Regions from separate parts of the Homo sapiens genome. Here regions 1, 2, 3, 5 and 6 are each reported to be linked to region 4. The links are microRNA targets in miRTarBase. Many come from high-throughput screens and were not tested one by one. Region 4 holds a microRNA gene; each other region holds the end of a gene's coding sequence.

Evidence for each region. The annotated mature microRNA hsa-miR-26a-1-3p reads CCUAUUCUUGGUUACUUGCACG and lies in region 4 at 2,050-2,071, shown strand. An mRNA with a match to its seed (bases 2 to 7 or 8) in the 3' UTR can be bound and repressed. Matches are read on the target gene's strand: a 7mer-m8 pairs with bases 2 to 8, a 7mer-A1 pairs with bases 2 to 7 and ends in A, and an 8mer does both.
Region 1: miRTarBase lists USP42 as a target of hsa-miR-26a-1-3p. Seed matches in the 3' UTR shown: 7mer-A1 at 3,179-3,185.
Region 2: miRTarBase lists SOWAHC as a target of hsa-miR-26a-1-3p. Seed matches in the 3' UTR shown: 7mer-A1 at 1,624-1,630.
Region 3: miRTarBase lists GABRG2 as a target of hsa-miR-26a-1-3p. Seed matches in the 3' UTR shown: 8mer at 2,558-2,565.
Region 5: the mRNA of SYT17 is a reported target of hsa-miR-26a-1-3p. Seed matches in the 3' UTR shown: 8mer at 3,769-3,776.
Region 6: miRTarBase lists ACSL4 as a target of hsa-miR-26a-1-3p. Seed matches in the 3' UTR shown: 8mer at 1,671-1,678.

Annotation. Positions count from the first base shown.
Region 1 is chr7:6,158,552-6,163,980 of GRCh38, reverse strand. It overlaps USP42 (ubiquitin specific peptidase 42), which reads right to left. Exons shown (of 18, transcript NM_032172.3): 17 at 4,488-4,531; 18 at 2,417-3,426. The coding sequence ends at 4,524. It overlaps CYTH3 (cytohesin 3), which reads left to right. Exons shown (of 13, transcript NM_004227.4): 13 at 1-2,202. Among named protein-coding and RNA genes, the nearest start is that of USP42, 56 kb to the right of the region's middle.
Region 2 is chr2:109,615,669-109,621,097 of GRCh38, forward strand. It overlaps SOWAHC (sosondowah ankyrin repeat domain family member C), which reads left to right. Exons shown (of 1, transcript NM_023016.4): 1 at 1-3,322. The coding sequence ends at 399. It also overlaps a transcript of RANBP2 not described here. Among named protein-coding and RNA genes, the nearest start is that of SOWAHC, 4.0 kb to the left of the region's middle.
Region 3 is chr5:162,152,515-162,157,931 of GRCh38, forward strand. It overlaps GABRG2 (gamma-aminobutyric acid type A receptor subunit gamma2), which reads left to right. Exons shown (of 10, transcript NM_198904.4): 10 at 579-3,012. The coding sequence ends at 854. Among named protein-coding and RNA genes, the nearest start is that of GABRG2, 87 kb to the left of the region's middle.
Region 4 is chr3:37,967,403-37,972,831 of GRCh38, forward strand. It overlaps MIR26A1 (microRNA 26a-1), which reads left to right and starts at 2,002; the gene lies at 2,002-2,078. It overlaps CTDSPL (CTD small phosphatase like), which reads left to right. Exons shown (of 8, transcript NM_001008392.2): 5 at 424-480; 6 at 4,005-4,097. RefSeq lists enhancers at 1,672-2,235, 2,236-2,797.
Region 5 is chr16:19,266,537-19,271,965 of GRCh38, reverse strand. SYT17 (synaptotagmin 17) reads right to left here. Exons shown (of 8, transcript NM_016524.4): 8 at 3,634-5,086. The coding sequence ends at 4,890. Among named protein-coding and RNA genes, the nearest start is that of CLEC19A, 16 kb to the left of the region's middle.
Region 6 is chrX:109,639,656-109,645,084 of GRCh38, reverse strand. ACSL4 (acyl-CoA synthetase long chain family member 4) reads left to right here. Exons shown (of 16, transcript NM_001318510.2): 16 at 899-3,750. The coding sequence ends at 1,056. Among named protein-coding and RNA genes, the nearest start is that of KCNE5, 17 kb to the right of the region's middle.

The sequences.
Region 1 (5,429 bases), not on the chromosome of region 4:
TCCATACGCTGAGCCACGTGAAACTGCTGATGTTTTGTTTAGATGCACACACATGGCAGCGTTTCATACAGGTCAGCAGGTTAGACCGGCTTTTGACCATATTCATCGCTATTTAAAACCTGTGGCAAAATGAACGCTTATTTTACAGACTTTCTAATTTGACCAGATTTCTTAATGAATAGACACAGAATTAACTAAAAACAGTCTCACCCCATGTAGTGCGCCGTGTCCTGAGAGAGGTGCCCTCCCTACGAGGAGGGAAGAACAGGCCCTGGGGTGCAGAGGCCCGGCACGTAGAGAACCCAGATAGACGCCGGTGGTGGAACTGGTCAAACTCCACGCCCGCCTGGGAGGTTGTCAGGTTGCTGTGGATGTAAGGATAGGAGGTGCCCAGTGCTCCGCTCAAGGAAGGCTGGATCTGGGCCCCACCTACAGAGAGGGCTCAGGGCTGGACCGGGGGCATTGTGTGCTTGGGCCGACCCGGGCCGGTGGCAGACGCTGTTCTCTGTCGGGAGATTTGCGTCCCCAGGACCCTGTTACACAGTGGGCTGTTGGGTTGGTGGCTGGCTTTTCCTCTATGGACTTCCTCTTCCTGCCCCACCTGCATAGGCACACACACCTTGAATCTGCACCCTCTGGAGGGCATCTGTACTCCTGTGCAAAATGCCCAGTCCAGAGACAAAACCTCAGACTTTGTGCACCTAGGTTTCCTTCTCAGCAGCGGAGACTGTTCTTTGAGTTGCCTTGAAGTGGAGGCCGAGCGGCTGCGGGCCCTTCGCCTCCCTGCGGCTGACCTTGATGTAGCTTTAAGTCACACTAGACTGCAGAGGGGTCCGAGGCCAGAAACCCCTGTCCTGCATCAGACTTTCATTCCCACGTTCTTAGGCTTTGTTACTGATACCTCAAATCGGAAGTTTTAGTTCTGAGAAAGGCAAGTCAGCGTTCTTGAAATGCCTGACTGGTAGATATGCAACTCTGGCCTCCAGTCTTCCATGAAAATAAATGCTGCCTGGACCCCCACCCAGACCACACACTGACGGCCGGCTCCGGCGGTGCCCACCCCTCAGGCTGGCCCGGCACCCAAGACTGGCCACAGCCAGCTCTGTCAGCATGTTGTGCTCGGACAAGCTGTTTCCTTCTTCTGACCAACCCAGGTGTGACCTGGGGATGCAGAGCTTTCTGTTTTGGGTGTTGGGAGAAGCAGCAGGAAGGAGTCGCCAGATGATCAAGCTCCCCCTTTGCTGTCATCTGTGAATGAGCTTCGCCAGGTGGTGGGCACCTGGGAGCCATGCAGAGGCTGTGGTGCTGAGTTAGACTCCAGGTACTTTGTGGTCAAAGGAAATCGCCTAGCTCCAGGCTGTGTTAGGACAGTATTAGCATGAAGGCTGTGCGACCATCATGCCTGCTGATCCTTGAGGCAGGCCTGGTCCAGAAAACTCTGGGTCAGTGACTGCGCAGGGCCAGCCGCTACCAGGACGGCCCTGAAACAGGACACATCTGTTTTTTGTCCCTCACCCTGGGCAGGCCGCGTCACAATCACAGTCCTCCTCCTCCCCACCCTGACGTCTGAGCGCAGGGCTTGAATTGTTAGTCCCAACTCTGGCCAAAGATACTTTTTTCCAGAGACAGAGGCCAGGAGGCAGTGAGGGGAGCCCCGCGGGGAGGCGGCGGCGACTGCCACAGCCCTTCCAGCCTGTCTTGCTGGCCGCCCTGGTTCATATTTGAGTTTAATTGTACTGACCCTGGACCCAGATAAGCAGCAACTTTGTGTCTTTGGGGTCACAGAACATTTTGGGGCAGTTTAATGTGGTACCAAACTGAAAATAGGAGCTATTTATAGATGGAGCAGCACTTAGTGCTTCATAGAAAGCAATGCCTATTTTTAAAGTTACAAACGCAGATATCTACATAGATATGCTTTGCTGAGAAGTTAGGTCTGTGGTAGACCAGAAACCACAAATTGACTTTTTTTCTTAGAAAATATTTCTATTTGCGGTAAATATAGTAATATGTAAATAATGTACATCTGTTGATTTCTGGAGTGTCTGTTATTCAATGATGTATATACTCCCACAGCTCGCATGAAGGAACAGCCTCTATTGATACTTGGTTGTAAAGTGAAGTAAGATTGGAGGGTGGATGGCTGTCAGAGCTCTTGCAGATACTGTGTTCACTAAATAAAAATCACATGTATTGTTAAAACAAGCCTAAGACTTGGTTCTTTAAAACAGATATTGTTGGGTCCAGCAAACACCCCTCCAATTTTCCTTTGCCCGTCCGAGGTGGGATGGCCTGGCCGAAGGTGCCGACTTCGGCAGGAGCACTTACTTGAAGGTTTTAAGAAAGTGAATTCAGATGATGACAGGAAGGAGTCTGGAAGCAAATGGGGAAAACAACAGTAAAAAGACGCCAAGTGTGTGATTTGCTGCCATTTATATACTATAGAAATTTTACATGCTGTATATTTACAGTGGGGCAAGTGCTTTTTTAATCTTTAGAAAAACAAAGATCAAACTTTAAACATCTCTGAACAACACAAACTGTATAAACCATACAGATTATTCAGATACAAACTGTATTAAATACAGTTTTCCCCACTCCATCTCCTGATGCAGGACCAGTGAATTATAAGTGTATCACAGTTTGATAGCATATCCATATTAAAAATAAAATCACAGTATGATTGTGTCTGTAACTAGAAACTCGAAGGGACCAAGCAGACAACGGAGACTCCAGTATCAGTGAAGACAAGAGACGCTGTATCAAAAAGTGTTGTGTAATAGAAACATACTGTCGGCTTTACAAATCATGTCTGGGTTATACATTCATAATGTAAATACTCATCATAACTGGGAAATTGATTGATTGGAACAGTTCCACAAAGTTCAAAAACAGAACTTGTCTATAAAATACATCTTCAAATCTTGAATACAACTAAAATAAGCAAATTAGTTTCTAGTATCAGACATTACAGAAAACAGACTGCTCTCCAAAGTCTAGGTGAGAGCTTGTGAGTTTTTAAATAAGTCTTTAAATTAAATATACACACTGTCAGTTTGTACTTTTGACAATTCCATGGTCTCCCGGTTGGTCTTGCACCAGATGTCTAACTTGGAGGAACATTACATGAAATACAAGTAATCGACCTGAGTCTGTAATTAAGCAGCATTTGAGATGTTCTATTCCAGGGCATTATTTCAATGGGATTTATATACACGGTATTTTACAATGGTCAGCAGTGGTAGAAAGTGTTCGTCCATTCGGAATAAGGGTAATTAAGAAAAGGTAAAAACTAAAAAAAAAGTTCTCCATGGTAAAATCTGTACAGTATTTACTAAAGAAGCACCACGCAGATTGGAACAGAGTTATTGTCTATCTTTATAATTTAAGCTGGGCTGGGGATGGCTTCTGTTGAACGCGTTGAATCTGAAAGACAAGAGGCGCAGGGTTAGTGAGTTGGAGGCAGGCGGCGGCGTGTAGGGCTTATTCCCGGACGCCCTGCCAGCTGCTCCCGAAGGCTGGGGAAGCTCTTCCTTGAGGAGATCACTCTGCCTTCTCTGCCTTCCTGAGTGGAAATGAGGGAACTGGCGGTGCGGGCAGCTCAGCCAGGGAGGCGCCATCTGCTGGGCCCGGCCACCACCCGCCCCAGATGCCTCCTCCACCTCCATCCTCACAGCCCCTCACTCAGGAAGTTTAGCTCCTTAATTAGGGTTGGGCCTCTCCCTTGAGGACACATTGATAAAGCCTGTTAATTAACGGCCAATTAATCCACAGACTCTTCACTTGGCAATTCATTTTAAATTCCTCTTGCTGACTACATGTGACAGACACATTTGGACAAAGTTTCCTTTCAAGGGAAAAATGGTTCACTGTCCCCTCTAGCTCCACAAGGGTCAGGTATAAAACCAGTGACTCTCCCAGGACCGCTGTGTGAAGTGATCCAACAAAGCCCCACAGCTCCGAGGTCCTGATCTGCCGCCCGGCCCTGGGCCACCTTCCTATGGTTTTGTACGGTGGCTGCTGGGGGGGTGCTGGCTCCAGCTCAGTGCCACCTCGGGGCGCAGACAGCAGCACAGGGGACGGGACGGACGAGGGAGCAAGGCTCCGCTCTCCTGAGTGAGGTGCCTGTGCTGGGGACCGGGCCTCTCCCTTCCCAGATGTTTATCAAAGGCCCGTGGGCTCTGCCGCTGTGAGCCGGGTTGGCTTTTCCCAAGTGAGGCACAAGGGAACAGGGCGACTCTGCCTGCGTGAAGGATGCGGGTCTTCCCCAGCCAGTAATGCAAACGTGATGAGGTGGAGGGTCTAGGTCTGTCCCCAAGCGCGTGGCCTGGGTCTGGGCTGGCTGGGAACCTGCCGGGGCCTCTCCATGGCTCTGCCAACTCCTATGAGCCCAGCCCCCAGGCAGAGCCGCAGAATTAAAACTCCTCTGCCTGCGTCCCCTCAGCGCCACCACAAACAATGAGGAAACAGACAGGAAAACAGCTTACCATAACTAGTGAATTTTTTGTTTTGAGGCTGAGTTTTCAATCACCTAGAAAGCAAAGGTCAGGAAAGAGATTTTAATGATGGTTGCAAAATCGCCAGGGCCTCTGCTGTGTGTGTGCGTTAAGTGGCTATGGTCAGAGTCACTGCGGTTCCCTGTGAGCGCCTGAGGCCACTCCCCAGTGAGGTGAGCAGGGATGTCCCAGCGCTCAGCGGCTGCTCCCAGGGTTTTACTGATGTCAAAGGGTTTACGTGATGACTGAGGGCTCCATCCAACCCACACGCAGCCTGATGTTAGAACAGATATCAGGCCCAAGAACTGAACTGGGCGGAACAGAGCCAGAGGAGGAGTTTGAAAGAGAAAGACAAGGGGCCGAAGTCCAGGGTAGAGGGGGACCCGCAGGACCACAGGACGCTGGGTGAGGCGGGGCCGGGCAGCGGCCTTCTCAGAAGGACAAGAAAGGCTCCTCAGTCTGCTCGCAGCAGAAGCGCCAGCTGCAAACCCTGTCATCGGTGCAGTGGGACGGGGACGGAAACACAGGGCCACCACACAGACAACGCCTGACCACAGCACCCGAGACACGAGGCAAACAAGATCACGTTCAACCTCCCTCCCGCTGGACCAGCTGCCTCGGGGGCCATCACTGTCTCCCAGTAGCCCCAGCTGGAAGCCCATGATCCTGGGAGCCTGCACCACACTCAGAATGAGCCCATCCACTGCATCCTCGGATCCTCGGGTACCAAGCAGCCCTCACGAATCTCCTTCCCCGATTCGCTGAAATGGGAACGCAAAACCAATTCTGAAATGTCCAGAACGTCTACAAGGCCCGCAGGCAACCCGTCCTCACCGGCAGTGCTGGTGCCTGTCCTCATCTCCGGCTGTTTCCCCAGCACTCCATGGGCAAATGTCCCCCATGGGGCTCACCCCGCAACCCCCAGCTCTCTCT
Region 2 (5,429 bases), not on the chromosome of region 4:
GTGGGAGCCCTGGACGAGGGTGACGGGGAAAGCGCCGCGGGTAGCGGCGGCGGGCGCTGGAGGCTTTCAAAGGTGCTTCCCTCGCATCTCATCACCTACAAACTCTCACACGCCCTAGAAGATGGAGGGGACCATCACCACCATCACCACTCGGCTGAGGGGTGGGTCGGAGGCAAAGCCAAGGATCCAGGGCGCAAAGCCTCGGGCAGCTCTAGTGGACGTATAAAACCCAGACTCAACAAAATCCGATTCAGAACCCAGATCGTCCACACCACACCCTCTTTCAGGGACCCAGAGCAGCCGCTGGAGGGCAGGGGGGAGGAGGGAGTGGGGGAGGAACGACCTGTTAAAGGCCACTCGCCCTTCACATTGAGACCAAAGTCCAATGTATTTGGGTAAAAATTGCTTCTTTTAGAAAATGCAAAGGTTTATTTGTCTTAATAAATTGAATACTAGGTGTTGTAAGGAAGTGAGACCAGAAGGACAAGCTAAATTATGCATTCTTACTTGAGGGATCGGAATGGATGGGGCGGAGTTCTCTTCAGGCTAGCCTTCTGGGAAAAGTGGATGTCTTTTTCAGAGATTCATCATACCTTGACCTGTACCTCTTCTCTGCCCTCCACTTCCCTGCCCTGGAGTCCGTTTCTGGAGACTAGAAATGTATCTAAATTGGGGGAACAGAATGAATGAATTAATGAATGAGAGTTCCTTTGCTTTAACCATTCCTGGATGCCTGCAAAGTAAGGAATAATGCAGTTTTTATGTATCTGATTTTATAAGGGGTTACTCTTTCAAGAGTAACAAAAAAATGCAAACTGTAATGAAACTACATTGTATTTCTAAGTGTGAAAACGACAGGCTGCCCCGTTTTTACTAATTGCATTTGCATTTTAAGGTACTACTGAAGGTCAGATCAAAGTTGAAATGCAAAAATACTAATTAGAGAATAATGTGAATAAAATGGGAATCTTCTTGGTATTTTATGTGTATTGTAAGTAGCAGTTAAATTATTTTTTTAAAAGCAATTTCAGTTTTAATCACTGAACAAAAGAAACAGGCAACATTCACTTCTGTAGTATGGTTTCCACCTATCTCTAACACCACTATTAAGGTACACCAGTGTTAAGGTACATTAATAACTACACAAAATTTTATTTAAAGAGAACACTTAGCAGCCTATGATAGTTTTCAATAAAATGTTGCCTCTCTTTCGGATTCTCACTAACTTTTGTTACTATTCTAAAAGTTTGAATTTGCTGGGGTGTTTATTCTGAGGATTATTTAACCATTGTTCTATTTGGCATAACCCTATTTAATGGTGCTTAGAGCTGAATTACCTACAGAAACTGTTTCTGGTTTAAATAATTAGCACAAATTGGCCTAAGTATTCATGAGCCCATGTTTCTGTGAAGTAATTATTAAACCAACTTAATGATTCTTATGTAAGGTACACTTTTTATTTTAATACATTGGTAGTCTCTATGACTTGTAGCAATGTTTTACAAATGTTTAAAATGCTAAACTTAATTTTCCAAGCTTTTCTTGACAATTAGATACCTATCCTGTAGTTACTGAAAATCTGGGTAGTAAATCTACCCAATTAAAATGGCACTTTATAAAAGGGAATAGAGAAGAGATGGGACTATTTCTATATTTAAATGCTGCTGGCTATTCCTTTGTATATAAATGAAAAATACCATTCATTAAAATTAAGTACTCGTTTAAGTATGGTTCTTAATTACATTTCATTCATTTATATTAGAGTAAATGGCTTCATAACTACTTTAAAATTTAACCCACAAGCATATTAAATCTGTTTGTTATAAGATTGGAAACAATTTTTGAGAGGGACTAATTTAAACAAGTCCTCCTTTAGTCTTTTGGGTCGCGTAGTTGCTGAAACCTAAGTACCTGCAGCCTACAGGATAAGGAAGTTCACAGCCTGCGGGGTGAATGAACCCATGTGTGAACTGCACAGAGCAATTCATAGAAAATGCATAGAAATTTGTAACACTTTGGTCACATCTGTCTCTAGATGGTCATTGAATTTGTTTAAAGATGGATGAAAGGCCAGGCATGGTGGCTCATGCCTGTAATCCCAGCACTTTGGGAGGCCGAGGCAGGTGGATCACTTGAGGCCAGGAGTTTGAAACCAGCCTGGCCAACATGGTGAAAACCTGTCTCTACTAAAAATACAAAAATTAGCCGAGCGTGGTGGTGCGTGCCTGTAGTCCCAGCTACTTAGGAGGCTGAGGCATGAGAATCACTTAAACCTGAGAGGTGGAGGTTGCAGTTGAGCCAAGATCACGACACTGCACTCCAGCCTGGGCAACGGAGACTCTGTCTCAAAAAAAAAAAAAAAAAAGATGAATGAAAATATGAAATATATAAACTAGTATCCATTTATTTGCATTTATTGTGGGATTTCAGATATGAACGGTGTAAATTTGAGAAGCACTTATGCATACATGTGGGTGAAAAACCAATCTAATTTTGTATAAATAAAAACAGGCTCCTGGAAGGTGAAAAGTAGTCATTTGTTCTAAATCTATACATATTACTTGTATCTAGTGCAGAATAAGCTATAACATCCCATTGAGGAATCTTAAATTTCATAGACATGTAAAGCTGAAGTAACTCTAAAGAGCAGATGCTTCAGAACCATCAGAAGGTTCTGGTCAACAGTCAGTATTATCTCTTAAATGTATATGTTGGTCACTAATTGCACAAAATCTATAATTTGCCAGGGCTTTAGAGATTGAGTCAATATGTCATTTACCATGGTTTTCCCACTGAAGGCTTTAACTTTTCTGATAAAATAATATTTTAAATTTTCAAAAACCCATTCCTGAGGAGAACTACTTCTAGCATTCCTTTTCATGATGTGCTTTTGTGCAGTAAGTAGCATTTTCGGCTACTTAACTTTACATTCCTCTTATTTTTCAGTTTCCAGTCAAGATTATAAAAAGCAAATGATTGATATAATTTGATATTCATAGAGTTGTGCCTACCTTTAATGGAAAAATACATGTCAGATACTTAGATGTTTATTGATATGAGACTATGTGGTTAAAAAACCCAAGTATGTCCATGTGTTTCTTATAAGGTACACTTGAAACTAGTGAGTGTTTGTCACATTTCACTTTCATGGTATATAAAATGCAGTTTGCATATATAACTTGAATATCTGGTACTAGTTTTTTCACGCCTGCAATCTTGGAGTCTAGGTTGCCTTGTCTCTCCTATTTTTAAATAAGTGAAATTTGGGAGATTGTAAAATCTGTAAAGTTTGTTTTGTGAAAATAAAATGTTCACAGTAGAATTTTTCTCTGAATTGTCTAAGTTTCTGTCGTCCTTTAGACTTTTTACATATACTGTGTTTTACAGTTCACAAAATGCTTTTTGAAGTTTCAGTTTATTTGACCCTTTTCCTATCCCTTAAGATTATGGGCCATATATTGTTGACTTACAGATAAGAAAATAGAGGTTAATGGTTGTTCAGGGTCACACAGTAAAAAGCTGTTAGTAAGATTATAAGAGTCAGGGCTTTCCCACAACGTTATCTTTTCTGCACATTGAATTGCCACATTTTTAGCAAAACTGCTGTAGTTTGGCACCAGTGATGGAGGAATCAACTTGGAGAGAAGGTAATACCTCCACCACTACCTAAAAAAAAGCTGTATGGGTTTTGCACACACCATCTGCCATAAACCTGCCCTACCCAGGGCTGACTTCAAGACAGGTGTAGGAATACCGTTTTTCATTTTTCAGCCTCTGTGAAGCATTGAGAGTTAATTACCTCATCAAGGCTTCCTGTGATCTGTATTTTTAGCAAAATTCAACTCTGTTGAATGGCAAAGGGATGTGGTACTCCTTTGGTGTAATCGCCCACTATTGCTCTATCCGGGAGATCCCACTGTGATGGCTGCTGGGGTTATTCTTGTTTTATGATAACCCATAAAATATTTTTCAGGATCACTGAAAGACTAGATAAGTAGTTTGTTTTTCTAGAATAACTTCTTTCCTTAGAAGTACATGTCTTAAAAGGATTTATTAACCAGTTCACTTAAAGATATTTTTGAAATTTTCCTAGTAAAAATTATTTTTATTTTGCTAAGTAAATAGCATTATTTGGAGTTTCTTACATGATTAATTCCAGGATTAAATACTTGGAATTTGCTGTAAACCAGTATTCCTTCAATGATCACCCAAGTCTTCATAAATCACTGAATATTAGAGGGTTGGAAGATGACTCTACAGAAACTTGTTTCTCAAGATACAGAAGTCATGTGGTTCACATAACTACCTGCTTTTTCCATGAAGAACACTATACTTTTTTTCTCAATCTTCTCTTTAAATGTCAGTTTCATCTCAGTAAGTAGCTTTCCTATTCTGTTAACTAATAGCCTATTTTTCCACATCGATGCATTGGTAAGGAATGTGTGACAAATGTTCTACCCTTGCACAGTGCCTGGCATGTTGAAGGTACTCAGTAAGGGTCTTTTAATGGAAAACATTAAATATTTTATAATGTTACATAATATGGATAATTCAATTACATGCATTCATGCTATGTGAATAGTTTTTTTATATAACATGGCTCTTAAATACCAGCCTATCAGTTCATCTGCAGCTCAGCCAAAAGAACAGCAAGTTATTCCAATCCTGAAGATAAAATCAGCTTTATTAGAACTGTACTTCGTGAGCGATTTAAGAGATTTTCAAGAGTAAATTTGATTATAAGAAAATTTTGCTGGGCGTGGTGGCTCACGCATGTAATCCCAGCACTTTGGGAGGCCGAGGCAGGAGCATCGCCTGAGGTCAGGAGTTCAAGACCAGCCTGGCCAACATGGTGAAACCCAGTCTCTACAAAAAATACACAAATTAGCTGAGCATGGTGGTGCATGCCTGTAATCCCAGCTACTTGGGAGGCTAAGGCAGGAGAATCACTTGAACCCGGGAGGCGGAGGTTGCAGTGAGCTGAGATTGTGCCACTGCACTCCAGCCTGGGCATCACAGCGACTCTGTCTCAAAAAAAAAATAGAAAGAAAGAAAGTTTCCTTACAAGCTGACTCAAGTCCAAGACCTGTAGGAGAAATTATTCTAATTGGCCTTAAATAGTCTAAGTACTGTCAGGTATACAAATGACTACTTATTCTGTGAAATCCCAAAGAGCAAATGAATAGGGAAATGAAGTTTAGTTTAACATGGAGAACTTTCTAATAATCATTTTAAACATACCATGGACTGCCTTGTGAGATAGAACATTCAGCCTTTGGAAATGTGTCAGAGGTTGCATGAGCACCTGAAAATTTAAAATAGATCATTTTAAAGCACACTTGTGACCAGTTCTGTCTCAAGAAACACTGCTCTAAACCATATTCATTCTGACCAAAGCTTTGGCCAAAAGCAGCCTAACTTAGGATAAA
Region 3 (5,417 bases), not on the chromosome of region 4:
ATGGTGAATATTAGAAAAAGAATCATAGTCCTTTAAAACATAAGCCATACCATTGTGGTATACAATCAGGAAAATTCTGTATTTATATATATTTTAACATTTTCTATTAACATTTAATACATTTGCTCAGAGTAATGGGTTTTCTATTTGCCTATAACTAAGCATGACACAATATTTGATTTCAGAATTGATGCATTTTTATTTCTCTGTTCCACTCACATGCAGCACCATCAAATGCCTTCATGTAACCAATGTCACATCTAATACTTACTAGAATAAGATTCCATGTAATTTGATTTAAATATTTAACTTTGAGTTCTTTTGGTGTTCAATCTCCTTGCTATAGCTATTAGCTTGATGATATTATTTTCAGCTGCACTGCTTAAGCTCAAAATTTGAAATCTGCAAATGTGCTATCTTTCTAAGTTCAATTTTACCATTGTAGATCATGATGTCATAGCAATTTCCTGAGTACCCATTTTCAGATTCATCATCACATTGGTGACATTGTGGAAAAACAGCCTAGGATCTCTCGAGAACAACTAACTGATCCCTCTCCTTCCCTACCCTCGTCCCAGGCCCCTACCATTGATATCCGCCCAAGATCAGCAACCATTCAAATGAATAATGCTACACACCTTCAAGAGAGAGATGAAGAGTACGGCTATGAGTGTCTGGACGGCAAGGACTGTGCCAGTTTTTTCTGCTGTTTTGAAGATTGTCGAACAGGAGCTTGGAGACATGGGAGGATACATATCCGCATTGCCAAAATGGACTCCTATGCTCGGATCTTCTTCCCCACTGCCTTCTGCCTGTTTAATCTGGTCTATTGGGTCTCCTACCTCTACCTGTGAGGAGGTATGGGTTTTACTGATATGGTTCTTATTCACTGAGTCTCATGGAGAGATGTCTGTTCTAAGTCCACTTAAATAATCCTCTATGTGGTTGATAATGATCTGAATCTGTTTCTATGTCCAAACCTGGTAAATTTTATAATGTCATATTGTTTGTGCCCAGCCCTCCTTTGGTTAGTGTACTTTGAACTTCGATGTTTGCTGTGTTTCAAACCTGCAAGGCAAAGTAAAATTAGAGCAAGAACATTCAAACCAAATAAGATATTTTTCAGCTACAGCAAATAAAACAGTGAAAGCCCTGACTATTTACAGTAGTGGTATCCTTACTAGATTCATAATGCAATTAGATAGAAAAGGTCCAAAACTGTACCCTATGTTCACTCCGGGTCAAGTTGTGATAAATTTGATCCCAATAGAATACCTCCCTCATTTAAGAAAAATCATAACTCACTTTAAATATGAAAGCCTAGTCCAGAAATCTATTACACCTTTATCTCAAGATAGGAAGAAAATTTCCTCCACATTCATGTACAATGATGTAAATATTTCAATAACTTAGAATGCTTCAAGTTTAGTGCATGCATCTCTTTAGATCCAAAATAAATGGACTGAAGTTATCATCCTATTGTCTTTTATTTTGTGTCCTTGGGCTATAAAAGATTCCTGAATGTAATTATAAGGATTTGGGTTTGGAAATGGAGGGAGGAATTTTCATTGCCTTCTCCCTCATGCATGAAGATTCGAACAGCTTATTTTTTCCTTGTATGACATATTACAACACTTTAAGTAAAATATAGACTGGATAATCAACATTTGCCACCTCTAAATATGCCCAATTTCATAACTAGAGTATAAAGTAATTGTATGTGCTTGCCGCTATTTTTTTCTTCCTTTTAGGATGATAGATCATAACAGAACTTATTCTCCATCTCAAGATCTGCTTCTAGTGATTGTGAGTGCCTTGTGGGCAGAATCCTTGTCATTTCCTCTTTGGGTCTGTAGCACCTTGCATAGTGCCTGGCATATAGTTGGTGCTCAATAAATATGGTTTGAAGTGAATTGCCCTCACATGCTTCTGGCAAATCTCTGTGCTGGCCTGAAACCAGTGACTCATCTTCTCACATAGGTGTTGTCAAGTGATATTTGATTTTGTAAAAATAACCAGTAGGATCCAAAGAACTTTAGCTATTTATGTTCATCTTCAAAAAATTATTTTAGGCAAAGTCCATACTCCTTTTAAAACAATATTTATGTCCTATGTTTGTGTATAGACATGACTCTACTAGGGCATAATTAGAGTTTGTGTATTATTTTTCCAGGTTTGGGGATGAGTCAGTCCTTGCCCATCCACAATTTTGTTTGTGAACTTATAACAGGAATAAGCAAAATTCATACCTGACTAGTGTTCAGAATGTAGCATTCTGTGCGAAAAAGTATTGAAGATTAGCTTTTAAAAACTGAAAAAAAAAAATGAATGACTCACATAGAGGTTGAGCCAATGACTGTGGCCTCATTAGATTACATTGTAGTTAAACAAAGCAATTTCTCCAGACTTAAAACATGATGAGTTGAGCTCTATCTTCATGTACTCATCCTGAATCCTTATTTTTCTAAAATAGCACCCTTTGTTAATTATTTTTATGGAAATTATTACTCTGTCATAATTAAATCATAGCTAGTATAACTTTACAGATAACCTAAAAAGAATAGAAAAGAAGAGAGAGTGGCTTTGTCAGTATAAAACCATGTAAAGTCATCATCAAGTCATCTGGATGAATCTTGAAACACATTTAGCTGCCAGTTTTACAAACCTTTAATATATCAGTGCTCCAGTATATAACCTCAAACAAATGTAAATAGAACGAATTATTTTCTTGTTTTGAATTGTCAATATATTAAATGTTGACTCTTTGGGAGAGTTGTTGGCAAGTTTCAATGGTGAGAAACATTATTGTCAACTTGAAATGTGTTCTGTAATGGGGACACTACAAAAAGCTAGCTTTCCAATGTGTGCATAGTATTGGCAATATGAATATATATTATATATAATCTAATACTTATTATAAGCTGCTCCCTGTCTATGTATTTGGAAACCTTTTCACAAAGGGAATTGCCTAACATGTGGACTTTTACAATAAAAATGCTGCATTCTAATCCATGGTGGCATCTCAGTAGTCTGGTGGGACTGTTTGTCTTAGAGATTGTGACCTCTCTTTCCTGCCTCATTTCCCCAAATCCCCTCTCAGTGAGCTTTATCTGTGAGCTGTGTGACTGTGTTTTGCATGGCGGTACTCTTCACCTCAAAAAAATTAAGAGAGGCATGTGGGTTGTAGAGTGAAGAAGAAAGGCAGACATGTAATAAAGTAAGTAAAAATTCAAGTCTTCTCTACCTCAAGAATTTCGGTGTGGTTAACATTAATTCCAGTGCCAGACAAAGTTGGGATCCCAGCTTTACTATTTACCAGTTGTTAGACAATTGTCAATTCAGACTTTAGAATCCTCCATTAAAAATAATTTATGTATTTGTTTATTTGTTTAGAGATGGGGTGTCCCTCTGTCACTCAGTCTGAAGTATAGTGGCACAGTCATAGCTCACTGAAGCCTCAAACTTCTGAGCTAAAGCATTCCTCCTGCCTCAGCCTCCTGAATAGCTGGAACTACAGATGCATGCCACCATGCCCAGCTAGAAGTCTCCATTTTAGCAGCTATAAATTAGATATACCAATGCTAACCTATGTAGTGACACTCAACAAATGGTCAAAAGCTCTCTCCCTCACTTCCGATGCCTTCCATGCACTGCTGTCATGCTCCCTTCATCCTATCAAACTAGCTTCCCTAATAGAATCCAGCATTAGGCATATAAGCCTTTAAGTGACTCTACATCACTCTATTTTTATTTTTAGGAAATATTTGCATTGCAAGTCTTTTAAACTATATGTGGGAAATTTCTGTCTCATTGGAAAAAAACTTACACATTACATTAGTTATTTTTAAGGCCAAAGAACTGTTATTTGTACCCTCAAAATTTACAAACATACAAAGTTGATTAGCCCTACTCCAGAGACAATGTCATGTTTTCTTGAACTCTTTTGAAATTCTCCCAGGAATATAATATTATCTTCACAACACAGCTGCCCTAACCATCCTTGGCCCCATTCTCTTGGCCCCTCATATCTTCCTGCATCTAATTTAATCATCTATTTCTCACCTTCCAAACCTATAAAAATATAGTTTTCACTTAGATGTTGTCTGCTGTCTAACTCAATGCCCTGAACTTTAGCTGAATTCATATCTTTATATGGCCTTCATTCCTTGCATTAAGTCTCAATATTATTCTGACTAGTAGCAAAAATTTTTGTCTGCAATGAAGGTCAAATTAAGTTAACAAAATGATGTGGTCTTCAGGGATTATGTCAAAAATTGCTATCTCTATGCTTTGTCACTATGAATCTTTGTCAAAGGTGTAGAATATGGGGGAATGACGTAGACCAAGAGCTCGGCTATGTTTTCTAGTGCTCAGTGAACTGCCAAAGGTCACACAGCTAGTTAATGACAGATCAGGGGGTCATCTAAGCATTGCTCTTTCCACTGTGTCTCACAGTATTTCAGAATTTAGAAGTAAAATTCTGGAATACTTTATCTTTCTGTTAATATTTTAGGATCTGCCAAACTGCAGGATGCTTTCCTTCTTTGATCTAAGCCTCACTTTGACTCATTTTATTGCAATGAGACAGGAATTTGAGAATACCTAGTAACAGAGGGAAGTCAATGGGTTTTGTATTTATTTTATTCCTTCTCATGTGAAATGACCAATTGATATTTAATATTACCCATACTGCTTTCAGAATGCTGTTTCAAAGAAACATCTAAACAACTCCAGACCTAGAGTTAGCCTTTGTCCTTTGGGATATGTGGCAGTAGACAACCAAAAAGTTTCCATGGCTAGGATCTGCAGGCTCATTCTTTCTACTATTTAAGCAAAGTGGTGGGGAATGACCTAACTATTATGATTCTTTCTAAGGTTACAGATTATAAGCCAATTGCAAAATCCAGTTGTAACTTTCTTTTGCCACATTTTGGATAATAAAGAAATAGTTTCCTCTAATTATGGTTTGTGTAACTAATTGGAAAAGCAGAGGCTCTTGCTCCAGATTAACTAGGTTCAAATATCAGCCCTGTCAACTTTTGTCTGCCTTAGTTTTCTCACCTGAAAAATGGAGATAATATTGGTGTGTATCTCAGACTTTATTATAAGGAGAAACTTAGTTAATACCAAAGAATTACTGGATGCTAGTAATTTTCCTCAGTAAGGATATAAAGTTTCAGAAAATACAGGGTACAAGAACCATATCTACTTTGCTTAAAAATATTGATCATCATTTGTGAGGACTCTCTTTTCTCATAAAAAAAAAAGTCACTGGACCGGGGATAGAAATTTCATTTAACATCTGGGGATTTCCAAATATTCCTATCTTGATGATATTCAGTTTCTTACGTAAACAAGGGAATTTGGCCCCTTTTTCTCCAGCAGATTTTTATTCGATCACTTCTCTGCTATTTGCT
Region 4 (5,429 bases):
AGTTGTGGGTCCAAGTACAAATAGTTTTCCCTCAAGCAGCACTGTCCTCGGAGCCCATTACATGCTCAGCTCCTCCCCCTGGTGGCTAGCAGTGATTCCCCATCACCCCAGCAAGACTCTGGGCAAGAGCTGGAGTTTTCAGGAGCCCCATCCTCTAGCCAGGCAGTGCCACACTTTTTGGTTGAGGCCAGGCAGGTGATATTGGACCAAGATGCTGAAAATGTAATGACATTCACAGTGGAAAATAATGTGCTTTCCTGCTTGTGCTTATTTTAAGGAACCAAGGCATGCTTCATCATCCTCCTCCTGAACTGTTTTTTCCAATAACCAAAACATTGGTCTAGGCAGGCTTTTTTCTTGCTAAAATTTCCAGAGTTTTTTTGTTCCTTCAGACATATTAATTATAGTCTCTTTTTTCTCTAGCCTATTAGTAATGCTGATTTTATTGTTCCGGTTGAAATCGATGGAACTATACATCAGGTAAGAAACTGAAGCTAAATTTGAGTTTCAATTAAGATTTTTTAGTACTTACATTTCCTATGAACTTTATTTCTAAATTCTCATTTCAGTAATAACTTTATTACGGAATCAAAAGGAAGCATACTGTAATAAATACAATGTTTTTCTTTTTTTCACTCCAATGAATTTATTTTATACTGAGATTATAAGGAAACTATAGTCGTAAATATTAGATGCGGTTGCAAGTTCAAATAGTTCTTTGATTTGAATTTCAGAAGTTTCCGTATCCCCCACTGGCCTAGCTTGATGGTCTAATTAACTTCCTTGTGTAATTGCTTTCGGCTACTCTCCTAGCAGGCAACAGGAAAATGCCACAAGTCACCCACTTATGGTGGACTCTCGGGAAAAAGTGTCCATTTTCAATGCCAGCTGCTCCAGACTGATCTTATCATTCCTGCATCGTTTTCTCCAGAGAATCTTTAGCAAATACCCACCCCAAAAGAAAAAGGGGGAAGGGTGTGAGTTTTCGGATCCGCAGGCTGCTATGAATAAAGATGCCGTAGTCAGTTGGCATGCGTCTTCGTTGCTTCTGATTTTTTTTCCTTATCTGCATAAAGCTCTTCCGGAAATAACTTCATTTATGAACAAATTGGGAATGTTGTAGGAAAACTAGCTTTAGAGGTTGAAGCTGGGGGGCTTTTGTCAGATTTTCCACAGGGATGATCTAACCATCTTCCTTGTCAAGTCCAAGGTCTTAAAGGGAGCGTATCTGGCCTGATATCCCAGGAAGGAGACTTTCCTGGTACTTGAGCCACAACGGGATGTCTTTTCTTAGCAATGTCAGTAGTCTTTGGTTCTTGAGTGCAAGGTGTCAGAACTGGAGAAAGCTTGGGAATCAGCTGGTCCAGCTGCCTCATTGTCTAGATGGAGAAACTGAGGCTCCGCCAGGGAAGGGGTTGGTTAAAGGTCATACGATGGGAAGAATTAAAATGAAAATTCCAGTCTCCTGCCTCCTGGCCCAGGGCTCTTTTCCTGATACGCAAGTCCCTTCCCTCCCATGTCCTTGCTTTCTTGCTTATTCTCCAGGACATCCTGCCAGGAAACAGTCCCGGGGAGAGGCAGCTTTTTTCCTAGTGTTTCCACACTTCATGCTTTTAAAAGCCATCACAGAGCCAAAACGGCAGGCACTTGGGCATTTAACATTTGCAAAAGCATCAACTGAATTAACTCAGCATCTGAGAAGCAGTTAAGGCTTCTGCATTTATCATCTTGGCTTGTGTTACATAGTGCTCATGATGAGACAAAGGAGAGGCTGCCCAATGGCATAGCAAGAATTAGGAGAGAAATTAATCCTTTGTACCACGTGACTGTAAGCATGACTGGCCTGCCCACTGCTGACCCATTCTTGCAGGAGCTCCCCCACCCTCCATCCTGGCTGTGCTGTGATATCACAAGGTCCCAGGGCTGGGGTCAGAAATTCTCTCCCGAGGGAATGAAGCCACAGGAGCCAAGAGCAGGAGGACCAAGGCCCTGGCGAAGGCCGTGGCCTCGTTCAAGTAATCCAGGATAGGCTGTGCAGGTCCCAATGGGCCTATTCTTGGTTACTTGCACGGGGACGCGGGCCTGGACGCCGGCATCCGGGCTCAGGACCCCCCTCTCTGCCAGAGGCACCAACACCAGAGTTCACAAATCAGTCTCCTGCCCTTTGCATGTAGCAAAGCTTGCTTTCCAAGCAGGACTCCCAGGGTGACTGAGGACTACAGGCCACACCCGTTTGCTGGCAACGAGGAGTCTTGTGGGCAAAGTGGGAGTCTGCAGCTGTTGCAGCCACAGGCCCTGCCCTCAGCCCTACCCCAGCCTCCCAGCTCCTCAGAGCTGTGTTGGCACCCGTGCTACGACATCCTGTTCCTCCAGCCCCTCGCTCCACCCTCAGCCACAAATCCATGTCCACCTCCTTCTTTCAGTCACCCATGAATTTCCCACTGAGTCCTGGCCCTCCTGAGCTCCTGCTTCTGGCACCTTGAAAATGACTTGGTTCTGTATAGAATTCCTCGGCCAGCAGCACACCCAGCATGTGGTGCAGAGCCCTCATCTCCCCTCTGCTGCTCCTCCTGCCATTCTCACCTGCTCCATCTGCCATTCAAGGCCCTAATGTGCCCACTGTGACCTGCCTCTCACTTCATCTTCAGCCACTTCCTCTCCCAGACCCTGCTGCTCCGGCTTCTCTCACTACCTCTGATGGCTGGGCACACAGCCTGGCTACTCTCTAGCTTCTCAAGTATTCTCAGGCCTCGGGTCTCACCCTCTACTGTTTCCTCTGCCTGAAAGCCCACTTCTTCTCAACCTTATTGGCCTGGTGAACTCCTTCAAGGTCCAGGCCAAATGTTATCTTCTATGATCCCCTCCCCTTGTGAGGGGAGTTAATTGTCCTTAATTTATCCCTCTACTACAACTTTCATTATGCCATGTTTATTTTTATATGTTTTTGCCTATGTCTGTTCTAGAGTATGAGCTCTTCAAGGGCAAGGCCTGTGTTTTATTCATCTTTGCAACTACATCAGGCTGAGCTCAGAGCTGAGGCTCAGTAAACATGCTGAATTGAATTTTAAAGAGTTTGATTTATTTTAGTGAAGTGGCTAATTTCAAACGGAATTTATTCAAGTTTGAATTAGTTCTTCCCTCCTCCCACTTCCTCTGTCTTCTCTCACCAGCTTTGCCTTCTCTCCCATCTCCCTTGTTTCCCCAGATTCATTCAGGCTCCCTAATCAAGAACCTATGTATGGTCTGAAGCCTGGCCTCCTCACTGCTACCCCCTGGCCTGGCCTGGTCAAAAGGGTGCACAGAGCCCAGCCATTCTAGAAAAGGCTACTCTTTGCACCCCTCTGCTCAGAGACCCCTCCTGATGGATTATGTCTGGGGTCCAGGAATAGCGATGGTTTCACATCCCCTGAAACATACCAAGCCCACCCTTTATGGTGTCATAGACAGCTTCCCAAGCTGACAAGGAAGCCCCTTCTTGCAGCTTTGCTGGGCCTGTGCTTCAACCCCAGACCTTCCTAGTAAGGGGGATGTCCATCCAGAACAGAAGGTGGCAGCCGGAGCAATCCCAGACCTGCTGGGCAATATGCTGGGCCTGGACCTCTGAAAGGACAACACCCAGACCGTGGCCCGTGCCCACACAGGTCCTGACCCTCAGCAGGTGCCAAGAAACACACGTGAAATGAATGAGTCATTACACACAAACATGGTACAACCCTTCCATTTGCTGGCCCTGAATATCCCCAAGACCCTCACACCATGGTCAGCTTCTCTTTTTCCCTTAGGAGGGGCGTCTGCAGTGAACTCAGACCTGGAGCCCTGTCTGAGGAGTGCCACGTCTGACTCCATAGCCCCTCATACAGTCTAGGCCTCTGCCTGCTATGCATAGACCTGGGGGAGGGAGGCAGGAACCTTTGTAGCAATTCTTCCTACAGTGGGCATTTGGGCCCCAGGCCATCCCCAGCAACTGCCACATCTGACCAGCCTGCTGTCTCCTGCCATTGCAGGTGTATGTGCTGAAGCGGCCACATGTGGACGAGTTCCTCCAGAGGATGGGGCAGCTTTTTGAATGTGTGCTCTTTACTGCCAGCTTGGCCAAGGTGAGTCCTGCTTCCCAGCCCCACACTCCCAGCCTGGTACTCCCAGCCCCTCCACCCCTACCCCCAATCTGTCAAGCAGCCCTTTGTTTTGGTGGGGGAAGCCATTTCTATGGTGACAGGTTCCCACCCCAGATGGGATGGATGCAGGCCATGTGCATGGTGCCAGTCTGAAAGCCTTCTGGGTTACCATGGTGACAGGGAGCACTTAGAACAAATGCTCCATGAAGTTGCTGTGTGCAGCCACCTGAAGCTGGGTGTCCACAGTCCAGAGAATCACAAACAGGTCCAGTGTAATGGACAAAGGATGGTGTACCCCTCAACCATTGACTGTCAGCCAACTGCTAGAGGCCCCTGTGTCCTTGGGTTTTGCTTTCACAGATTTGAGGGAGAAGCAAGTGAGAGATAAGTGTTGGACACTCACCCACATGCTTGGGCTGAATGAGAGTTCCAACTGCCCTAATGAGCTGTATGATCTGAGGCAAGTTACTTCACTTCTCATGTCAGTTTCTTCTATAAATTGGGGATAATTCCAGCTACCTTGTGGCTAGATCACATGAAATAACATATGTAAAGGACTTAGCACAGTGTCTGGCTCACATACAGCAAGTATTCATTGAGCACTTGCTGTGTTCCACATACTGTGCTGGGCATTGTCACATGATAAGCACTCCTGATGTTCATTATTTTGTGTTACAATTATTTGTTGATGATGATAGGCCGGGCGCGGTTGCTCATGCCTGTAATCCCAACACTTTGGGAGGCCAAGGAGGGCGTATCACCTGAGGTCAGGAGTTCAAGACCAACCTGGCCAACATGGTGAAATCCCGTCTCAAAATACAAAAATTAACTGGGCATGGTGGCGGGCATCTGTAATCCCAGCTACTCGGGAGGCTGAGGCACGAGAATTGCTTGAACCCAGAAGGCAGAGGTTGCAGTGAGCCAAGATCATGCCACTGCACTCCACCCTGGGCGACAGTGACTCCGTCTCAAAAATATATATACATATATTTATTGGTGATGATAAAATCATTCAGACATATCTTGATCCTAAAGCTTGATATGAATCTGACCTAAAATCTACACTGGCTCTGATCAAATAGAATGGTTTCTTTGTCCTCTCCACTGTTTAAGGAAACTAGCAGGTTCCCAAGCCTCCCAGTATGGTTTAGTCTCCCCCTTCACAGGTGTGGCAGGGTGCCTGTGCTGTGTGGGGCAGGCAGGGTAGGCCTTGCTTCTCCCAGGAGATCTTTGCCTTGACCATTTCCCAAACTCTGACTCTGATGGGGCTGACACCATCCATTTGTTGGTAGCACCACAGTTGTCTCCATGGGC
Region 5 (5,429 bases), not on the chromosome of region 4:
AGTGGCCTGTGTATCTCCTTTCCCACCTCCTACCTGAAGAGGAGGAGGATGCCAATTTAAACGAGTGGGCAGCCCACAACAGGGCACCTTGGGCACAGGTTTCTACAGAAACTCAGTCCTTCCTTCACCTTTCAACACATCCCTCTCGTCTCCTGACGAGCTCTGTTCCTGGAGATGTGAAAGGCTCTGATCTGTCCACCACTGTTACCTCTGATCATCCAGCAAACACTGCCTGATGTGTGCTAGCACTCATCACCATCACGCAGTGTGCCAAGGGTTATGGTAAAACTTTGCAGGCAAAACAACAACAACAACAACAAAACAACAACACAACTAAACAAACAAACTCTCTGCAGGCATTTTCCCAGCTAATCAACCCTAAGGGGTAACAACTGTCACCCTATTTCCGGACATGGTGGTGTGTGCCTGTAGTTCCAGCTACTCGGGGAGCTGAGGCAGGAGGATTGATTGAGCCCAGGAGTTCGAGACCAGATTGGGTAACATAGTGAGATCCTGTCTCAAAATTTAAAAAAAAAGAATTGTCATCCTATTTTTAGATGACACAGCCCAGTGGAGTGTTTAGCTACACTGGCTCTGACTTAGTTTGCTAGGGCTGCCTTAATAAAGTGCCACAGACTGGGGCTTAAACAACAGAAATTCATTGTCTCACAGTTCTGGAGGCTGGAAGTCTGAGATTGAGGTGTCAACAGGGTTGGTTCCTTCTGAGGGTTATGAGAGATTTGTTCCAGTCCTCTCTCCTTGGCTTGTAGATGGCTTTCTTCTCCCTGTCTCTTCACATCTTCTTCCCTCTGTGTCTGTCTCTGCATTCAAATTTCCTCCTTTTTTCTTTCTATTTTTTGAGACGGAGTCTCACTCTGTTACCCAGGCTGTCACGATCTCAGCTCACTGCAACATTTGCCTCCTGGGTTCAAGTGATTCTCCTGCCTCAGCCTCCCAAATAGCTGGGATTACTAGCATGTGCCACCATGCCTGGATAATTTTTTGTATTTTTAGTAAAGTTGGGTTTCACCATGTTGGCCAGGCTGGTCTCGAACTCCTGACCTCAAGTGATCTTCCTGCCTTGGCCTCCCAAAATGCTGGGATTACAGGCATGAGCCATTGTGCCTGGCCAAATTTCCTCTTCTTATAAGGACTCCAGTCATATCAGATGAGGGCTCACCTCATGACCTCACTTCAACCTGATCACCTTTGTAAAGACCCTCTCTCCAAATAAGGCCACAGTCTCAGGTTAGGACTCCAGCAAATCACCAACCCATAACAGGGTAGGCAGCTGGGCCTGGGCTGGCTTTTTATCTCTATTGCAGTTACCTGACACTTAAACTTATTAAATCTTGACTTCCAGCTGGGCGCAGTGGCTCATGCCTGTAATTTCAGCACTTATGGGAGGCCGAGGCAGAAGGATCACTTGAGCCCAGCAATTCAAGGCCAGCCTGTACAATATAATGAGAGCTCATCGCTACAAAAAAATTAAGAAGTTAGCCAGGCCTATGATCCCAGCTACTTGGGGGGCTGAGGTGGGAGGATTGCTTGAGCCCAGTGCTGTGAGCCGTGATACCACCACTGCACTCCAACCTGGGAGACGGAGCAATTTTTTGCCTCAAAAAAAAAAAAAAAAAAAATCTTGGCCTCCCCATTTGTAAAAGGAGATTAACATCTCTTCTACACCCCTGAAGGTTGCTGCATGAGGCTTAAATGTGATGTTTGGCACCTCGTGTGGTGCTAGTCAGCCCTCTTGTTATTACTAATGAAGGTGTCTAATGCTGGGGATGCCCTGCCTCATATCCCTCAGTCCACCTGGCTCCCCTGTGGCTATAGGGAGCTGTGTTGTGCACATACACAGCTGACCTCATCAAGCACATGTGCCTCTTCCTCTGCCCAGAGATTTCTCTGGTGTTATGGGAGCTTATACAGACCACACTGGACAATTCTGAAGTGCCAAACATTTAATGCTTTCAGGGCAGCCCTCAAGCCATGAGGAGGGACAAGCGTCAGTAATTAAATACTCCAGCTTCTGCATAATGATAATTCTTTAGTGTTTTCTACAGGGGTCCTCAGTATGACTGAGCTCACAGTACTAATTCATGAAGACTTTTGCTTTTCTCCTTCCCCTTATTCTTCACTTATGCTTTCTGGGGTCGTCTGCACCCAAGTCCTCATGTCAAGGTCTGTTTTTGAGGCACCCTAAGACAACGAGGAAATTGAGGCTTAGAAGACTTACGTGGTTTGTGCCCCAGTACACAGTTAAGGAGTGGTGGTCCTGGGATTTGAACTATGGTTTCTTGGGCCCAAAGCCCTTGGGCCTCATCACCAATGACTCCACCTCTAGTTCTAAGTGCTTATTACGTACCTGTCTTCACTCATTTTGTTTGTTCTTTTATGCTTTTATCTTCTACTGTAAACCACAGTAATGAAGCCATTTCATAGAGAAGGAAAACACTTCTCCTTTTCTGAGAACTTAACTGATATGGTTTGGATGTTGTTTCCCCCTCCAGATCTCATGTTGAAATGTGATCTCCAATGTTGGAGGTGGGGCCTGGTGGAAGGTATTTGGGTAATGGGGGTGGATCCCTCATGAACGGCTTGGTGATGAGTGAGTTCTCACTCTATTAGAGCTGGTTGTTTAAATGAGCCTGGCACCTCCTTCTCTTCCTCTCTCACTTCCTCTCTTGCCATGTGACACGCCTGTTCACCCTTTGCCCTCTACCATGATTGTAAGCTTCCTGAGGCCTCAACAGAAGCCACACAGATGCCAGCACTGTGCTTCCTGTATAGCCTGCAGAACCATGAGCCAAATAAACCTCTTTATAAGTTACCCAGTTTCAGGTACTCCTTTACAGCAATGCAAAATGGATGAATACATCAACCTAACCCAGCCTCCCTGTTTCTCCCCCTTGACCTCCACAACACTTCCACTCCAGAATGGGAGACACCATGAGGTTCTCTCTGCAATACCCAATGTAGCCTGAGGGGTGAAGCCATTTTAGCCCATGGAGCAGTTACCTGGGTCATGCCCTTAGCAGGGCTTGGCCAACAAAATGCTAAATAAGCCGTGAATCTTGCCCTGAGGAAGTGAAAAGTTTTATATAGAAGAGCAACACTGGAATAATTGGCATTAGTACACTGCTCAAGTCAGACAGACATATTGCAAATACTCAACATTCTTGACCCCCAAAATCTATCAGTATAATAAATATCATTGTTTTGAAGCTGGGTGCAGTGGCTCATGCCTGTAATTCCAGCACTTTGGGAGGCTGAGGCTGAGGCAGGTGGATCACTTGAGGCCAGGAGTTCAATTCCAGCCTGGCCAACATGGTGAAACTCTGTCTCTACTAAAAATACAAAAATTAGCCAGGGGTGGTGGTGCACACCTGTAATCCCAGCCACTCGGGAGGCTGAGGCAGGAGAATTGCTTGAATGCAGGAGGCAGAGGTTGCAGTGAGCAGAGACTGCACCACTACCCTCCAGCCTGGACAACAGAGTGAGACTTTGTCTCAAAAAAAAAAAAATCATTGTTTTGACTTGTTCAGTATGGTTTGTTACACAGCAGTACTAGCTGCAATGCCCTCCCACCTTCTATGTCCTGTGTTCATGAAGAAAAAGATAACTCGAATGCATGGCACAAATAAATAATCTTTAATTTCAATAAATAGCTCCCCATCACACCAGACATTATGCTGTGGAAAAAGATACAGAAGCATCCAACAGAGAGAGAGGAAAGAGAGAGAGAGAAAGAGAGAGAGAGAGAGATCTATTCTAACTACACTAATTCCTTAGCACGAGAGACGTGACATTCGTTCACAGAAAAACACAGAAAGATCCTCAGAGTATGATTAAGGAAGAAGATCATCATGGATGGGGTGTGATAGCCATTTTAATCCATATATCAAGTCTTTGTATGTCTTTCGTGGGTCACAATCACCATGATTCGGTCAAAAAATGTTACTTTTGCTCTATCATATCCTATTTACTTTACACACACACACACACACACACACACACACACACACTACTTTTATCCAAAGTGGGATCTCTGACAGACAGGAGGACACTGGTTGGACTCTCACTGGACAGGAGAGGCAGAGAGAAGGCAGTGCTCAGGGCTGAGGTCCTGGCCCATCGCCATGCTCTCCAAGAGGACACATAGGCACACACGTGTTCGCCTGTGAGGGCACATGCACGAGGACATACACATACATACCCACAGGGCGTTCCCTGGGATGAGCTAACACAAGAACAATTCTGTTAAGCCAGGAAAGGCTTCTGACACTGGAATAGTTTTGGTTGCCATTTGGTTTCTCCAAATGGCCCATAATCTAGTTATCACATTTACTACGGAGAAGACAAAGATACTTACACCTTTGGAGAAAGGTATCAGGTTTGAAGAACCCCAGGGAACAGCAGCCTGTTCAGAAGTTACCCAGTAGGTGTGTGTTTCGGAAGTGGGGGGTGTTCAAGTCTCCCACACACTGGCCAAACTCTTGGTAAATTTAGTCTTGATGGAGCTTGGCACCCTTTGGGAGGTCCTTTCTCTGGCCTGAGGGTTGAAAGTGCATTTTGGGGCAGGAGTATTGACAAGAGCAGGCACTGCCAATAAGTCCCACGGCAGAGCCCACTGAGCTTGTGATCTATGGATGGGGCTTCCGGAAAGTTCCTAGGCCTCACTCAACTGAGGGCGGCCATTTTGTGATCAATAGTCAGCTTCCTCTCAGTTCTGAGAGGATTTGGGGTATCTGTGTGTCTGTGTGTGTGGACGTGTGTAGACATGTTGCGAGTGTGTATGCAGGTGTGGATGTAATAGTATGTGACACATTTTTTTCCGTCTTTTTTTTTTTTTTTTAAACAAATGAAAGCTGCCTTCCCTGCAGCCCTCAGGTCACCTCCAGGGAGGCAGGAGACACGCGGTCACACTCAGCTCGGGACCTCAGGCTATGCCACTGCTCCACGGCTGTGCGGTGCGTGTTGAGCATGCGCCTCCAGTGGTTGGTCTCAGAGGGGCCTGAAGAGTACTGGCCAATGACGATCCTCCCGATGAAGTCATTGCTGCTCTTCATGTTGTGGCCGAAAACTAGGGAGCCAGAGGGTTGAGGGCAGGAGGGAGGCAAGAGGAAGGAGGGGAACAGAACAGGAAGGCAGGGAGAAGACAAGAGGCCATTAGTCTACACATTTGTCAACTGCAAACATGGGGGTCATCGTTTAGGGCACGCTGTCTTTTTCCTTTTCTTGGTGAGAAGTCCAACTCCCTCATCTCATCCTCCTGTGAGTCTCTGCAACAGCTGCACCTGGTTTCCTGCCATCCCATGCCAGCCAGATTCTTACCTCTCAGCCTTGGCATTGGCTGTTCCTTCTGCCAGACAGCTGCACCGCCTGCAATATGCAGCCTTAAACGTATGTCCCACGGCATCACCACA
Region 6 (5,429 bases), not on the chromosome of region 4:
CCCTGCCACCTTGCAGTTTGATCTCAGACTGCTGTGCTAGCAATCAGCGAGACTCCGTGGGCGTAGGACCCTCCGAGCCAGGTGCGGGCTATAATCTCCTGGTGCACCGTTTTTTAAGCCTGTCGGAAAAGCACAGTATTTGGGTGGGAGTGACCCGATTTTCCAGGTGACCCGTTTCTTTGACTAGGAAAGGGAACTCCCTGACCCCTTGTGCTTCCCGAGTGAGGCAATGCCTCGCCCTGCTTCGGCTCGCGCATGGTGCGCACACCCACTGACCTGCGCCCACTGTCTGGCACTCCCTAGTGAGATGAACCTGGTACCTCAGATGGAAATGCAGAAATCACCCGTCTTCTGTGTCGCTCAGGCTGGGAGCTGTAGACCAGAGCTGTTCGTATTTGGCCATCTTGGCTCCTCCCCCTTCTCTTTTGTTATGAGTGGTCAGGGATGTCCTCTCCGGGGTGGTGGTATTTGAGCAGACATATGGATAAAGTATGGAAGTGACACACAACTTTATTGAGAAAGACCATCTCAGGCAAATATAAAGTCTCTGAAGAGGAAGATGTGTGTGTATGTGTGTGTGTGTGAGTATAAATAATGTGTATATGTATGTATATTTTAATAACCACATAGACTAAAACTATCCAACTGAAACAACTTAGGTATACTTTGAGAAATATAAAATGAAATTGTAAGGTAGAGGTAGCATTAATAAACTATCTAGTATACCATTAAATAAGTTTGTGGTGATTGGTGATTCAACACCCGAATCATCTAGGTAAATCCTGAAAAACTCATATTTTATTAATTGCTTCTCCTTCCCCTTCTTTCCCCGTCCCCACTCCTTTCTCGTCTCTTTCCCCCCCTCTCCTTTTCTCCCATCTTTCACTTCTAATTTCAGTGAAATTGGAGCGATTTGAAATTCCAATCAAGGTTCGATTAAGCCCAGAGCCATGGACCCCTGAAACTGGTTTGGTAACTGATGCTTTCAAACTGAAAAGGAAGGAGCTGAGGAACCATTACCTCAAAGACATTGAACGAATGTATGGGGGCAAATAAAATGTTGTTGTCTTATTGACAGTTGTGCAGGAGGTAGCCTGGTGGTTTTCAACCTCTAGAATTTTAAGCCTTTGTTGAACTGTTAGAATGTAAGGTATATCATTCTAAAGATAGAGTAAAAAGAAAACAAAACCAAAAGTTATTAAAATTGTTGTCCGGTTTACTTTAACTTAGTTTTGCATAGTTCTAGTGCAGCTGAAATTGAAAAGTTATTTCCCTTTAGCTGTGTTATTATAGAGCAGAAATTCTGTTTTTAAAAATTAGCCTAAGATATACTTGTTTTTGTAAAGAAAAATATTTAATGTTGAACAAAATAAATTGGAGTTGGAGTAGAATGTAGTTTGAGGAAATTTGCAGCTTCCAATGCCTCTTGTCTTCCTATTTCAGAAGTTTAAATATTAAGCATGACAGAAAATATGTATTAACACTACTCAAAGCAAAAGTGCTGCAGGGCTTTAAAATTCTCTTCCAACCATTTATCTTGAAGGAAAAATTCAATAGTAATATAATACACAAAATCAAATAATACCTTAGAAGGTATTAAGATTATAATTGTTGCATAGGTTAGATATAGAGTCATTGTAATGTTGTGAATAATTACAGTGCCTAAAATAAGAATAGAACAACATATACAACACCAAAAAATATCTAGTAATATATTTAAAGGGAAATTGAGCTGCTTTTTTTGAAACTTTGAGATCTAAAAATAACTGTAATTATTTGAATGACTAAGAGGAAAGTACATTTTTTGAAATGCTGAAAATTGCCTTTCTGTGTTTATTCAAACTGAAAAGCTGAGACCAAGAGCAAGGAAGGTAAAAAGTTAACAGGCAAACATTTTCTCTTAGAAAAGGTGATAAAATCATAAGTATTTGGAATTAGAACCCTTGCACAGCACTGAACCTGGGAAAGAGATTTAAACTCTGAATTTATCTTTGATAACAGGGATTGATTTTAAAATGTACATGTATTAAATTACATTTGTAATTTAAGGTCTGTTTGCTGTTGCTGATTTTATTCTTGATCAGTAGTTTGCATTTCAGAAAGCCTTTCATTTTGCTTTAATTTTAGCAAAGCGGGTTATAATGAATGACTTCCCCAATATCTTGCTTGAACTTACAGGTGATTAACTTGGATGAGTTTTGGGAAGTTAAAGGGAAGAAAACACTGTTATCATTTTTTCCTGTTTGGGAAGAGCTTAGAAACTGGAAATACTAGATTTGGGAGAAGGGCAGAGTTACTTGATAAGGGACTGATGTTTGTGCAGTAACTTGGGAGTGTGGTTTCTTTTTGAATCTTTAATTAAAACCTGGGATTATATATCCCTGATAAATATTCACACTTGAACCATAGTTACTGTAAAATGCAAAAAATCTTAATACTGTTATTCTTTGCACTTTTTCTTAATCATTTTTTATATATATGCATATATATATGTGTGTGTGTGTGTTGCTTATGTTGTTTTGTACAGATGTGGGCCACCATTGCAACAAAATACATTCTTTTTGCTCTAAAATATTTATGAAGAAAATACTTAAATGTTATGTATATGGTGGTAATAAGGGAAAAATCAAGTATTATAAACAAGAATGAAGGTTTTTGTAAAGATTTCTGTTCAGCGTTTTGCAAGGTAAAATTTTAGGCAAGTTTTCCCTGAAGTTATGTGTATGTGAGTATTCTCATTCTTCCCAACTTGCCTTTGAAGAGTGAAATACCATTATTATCAAGTAGACTACTGTTCAGCTTTTATTCCTGCCCTGCTGTTTATCCCTTAAGAATGAGTTTCTTAGACTTTTCCAATATGTGATTTTTTTTCCCATTTAGAATGGTGATTTTAAATGTGTGAGTGCATGTACTATCTTATCTCAGATATTTGCACCCCCAATCTGCCCCCAACTCCCAAAAGCTAGAACACTGCCAACTGATCTGTTATAGGTCCTTTAGAAACACATAATTAACACTTAAGGTTGGGTGCTGCTAATTCTTTGCAAAAATCCAAATATTGTTAAGGGACCAGGGAGATGCCACTACCCCTTGATTTTCCATCTAAAAATATACATGTTTATGTAAACAAATCTTTCCATATCCATAGTGACTTTTCAAGTATTTAAGCCTAAAGATTTTGATCTCACATTTTTATACCTGTTTAAATTGCTCACAGTTATTACATACACATCAGCCATCAACTAAAGTTGTACTTTAAAAATTTACTACAATATGTACATTTCTAAGTCAAACACTTGTGACTTTTGCTTTAATTCCATGAATGTTCCTGCCTCCTTGATATTTGTATTTATTCTTTTTTTCTCTAGAGTAGAGGTATAATTGTGTGATATTTCAGAAATACAGATAAATGATTCAAAAAGTCACAGTTAAGGAGAATCATGTTTCTTTGATCATGAATAACTGATTAGTAAGTCTTGCCTATATTTTCCTGATAGCATATGACAAATGTTTCTAAGGTAACAAGATGAGAACAGATAAAGATTGTGTGGTGTTTTGGATTTGGAGAGAAATATTTTAATTTTTAAATGCAGTTACAAATTATAATGTATTCATATTTGTACTTTCTGTTAAAATGCATGATTGCAGAATTGTTTAGATTTTGTGTTTATTCTTGATGAAAAGCTTTGTTTGTTCTTGTTTTTAAGTTTGCACTCAAATCTTAAGAAATAAATCCACCCATGTTATCAAGCCAATTTGTACTTCATTATGCATTGAGATAAAATCTCCAAGTTTGAAGATTATTAACCAAACTTTTAAACACATATTTTTAAAGTACTCATCTCCAGGTTTATGGAATTGCATTAAGCAGTTAAACCGGCTTGTATAGTCCCATCCATTAGTTCAGAGTATTTGAATCCCAAACTGTTACTTTGGTCCAGTCAATAGAGTAAAACCCCTTTGTAACACTGATACTTTGGGACAAAACATGGATTATCAGTGGGCGCTACCAAATTATAACTGCTACTTTTAGGCTAATTAATATTTTAGAGAGAAATTAATTTGAGTTATATGAGGGTGTGTATAAAATGGCATTAAGAGCTCTATTTCCTGGCTTTGCCACTGTAGTTGTGTAACCTTCAGCAAATTAATTAACATTTTGGAGCTGCATTTCTTCATCTGGAAAAATTGGGTTGATGGATAATAGGATCTGCCTAATAGGATTGTTGTGAGAGTTAAAATGTAAAGTGTTTAGAACAATAGCTTATGTTAGCTATTATTATCATAATTATTATTGTACCTAGACACTATTCATCAGTCAGGTTGTTTAAAGTATTGACTAGCATACTCAGGGCCTTAAAGAACTGACTGCCCCTGAAGATTTTGTGAAAAAAGTTCTAGATCTAGAGGTCAGGAGACCTGGGCTTATTGACACTAGCTTTGTAACCATGGGCCAATCTCATAACCTTAGCCTTAGCCTTAGTTTCTTCTTCCCATTAAAAAACAAACAAACAAACAAACAAAAATTCAAAAATGATGCCTTTTGCAAAAAGGGAAAGACAAATGACAAAAGAAATAGGGAACATGATAGTCCTTATGGTCCATCATGTCTAGCTTTAGTATTGTGATATTACTGTTCCAAGCTCTATTTTCTTAAATGATGCCCTAGGTTCTGAGTTTCCTATAGGGCTATGAGGCTATGGATCACAAGAAGTTGAGGATTCTACTAGGTATAAGGAGTCTGTGACTCTTTTTTTTTTTTTTTTTTAATGTATTTTTGTCTTGAGATAGAGTCTCACTCTGTCACCCAGGCTGGAGTACAGTGGCTCCATCATGGCTCACTGCAGCCTTGAACTCCTGGGCTCAAGCGATCCTCTTTCTCACTTTAGCCGCCCAAGTAGCTGGGACTACAAGCACGCTCCAGCGTGCCCAGCTAATTATTTTTTTTTTTTTAGAGATGGGGTCTTGCTATGTTGCCCAGGCTGGTCTTGAACTCCTGGCATCAAGCAATCCTCCCACCTCAGCCACCCAAAGCGCTGGGATTACAGATGTGAGCCACAGTGCCTGACCCTTAATGTTTTTTTAAATTTTAATCAGGGTTTTGCACACATAATGTAAAGGAGTGCTTCCAAACTTCTTTTTATTGTGATCCACAATGCTGTGCACACATATTTTATGAAAATATTTTGTGAAAAAACAATACTAATGAGATGCACACTGGTTTTCTATTCTATTTCATTTATTTAAATGTTGGCTCTTACTCACTAAATTGATTTAATTACCCTGTAAAATAGTGCTGTTCAATAGAACTTTCTGTGAAGTTGAAAATATTCAGTATCTGCACTATCCACTGTAGTAGCTGCCAGCCACATGTGGCTGTGGATGATTTAAAATGTGGTTATTGTTGGCCAGGCCCGGTGGCTCACACC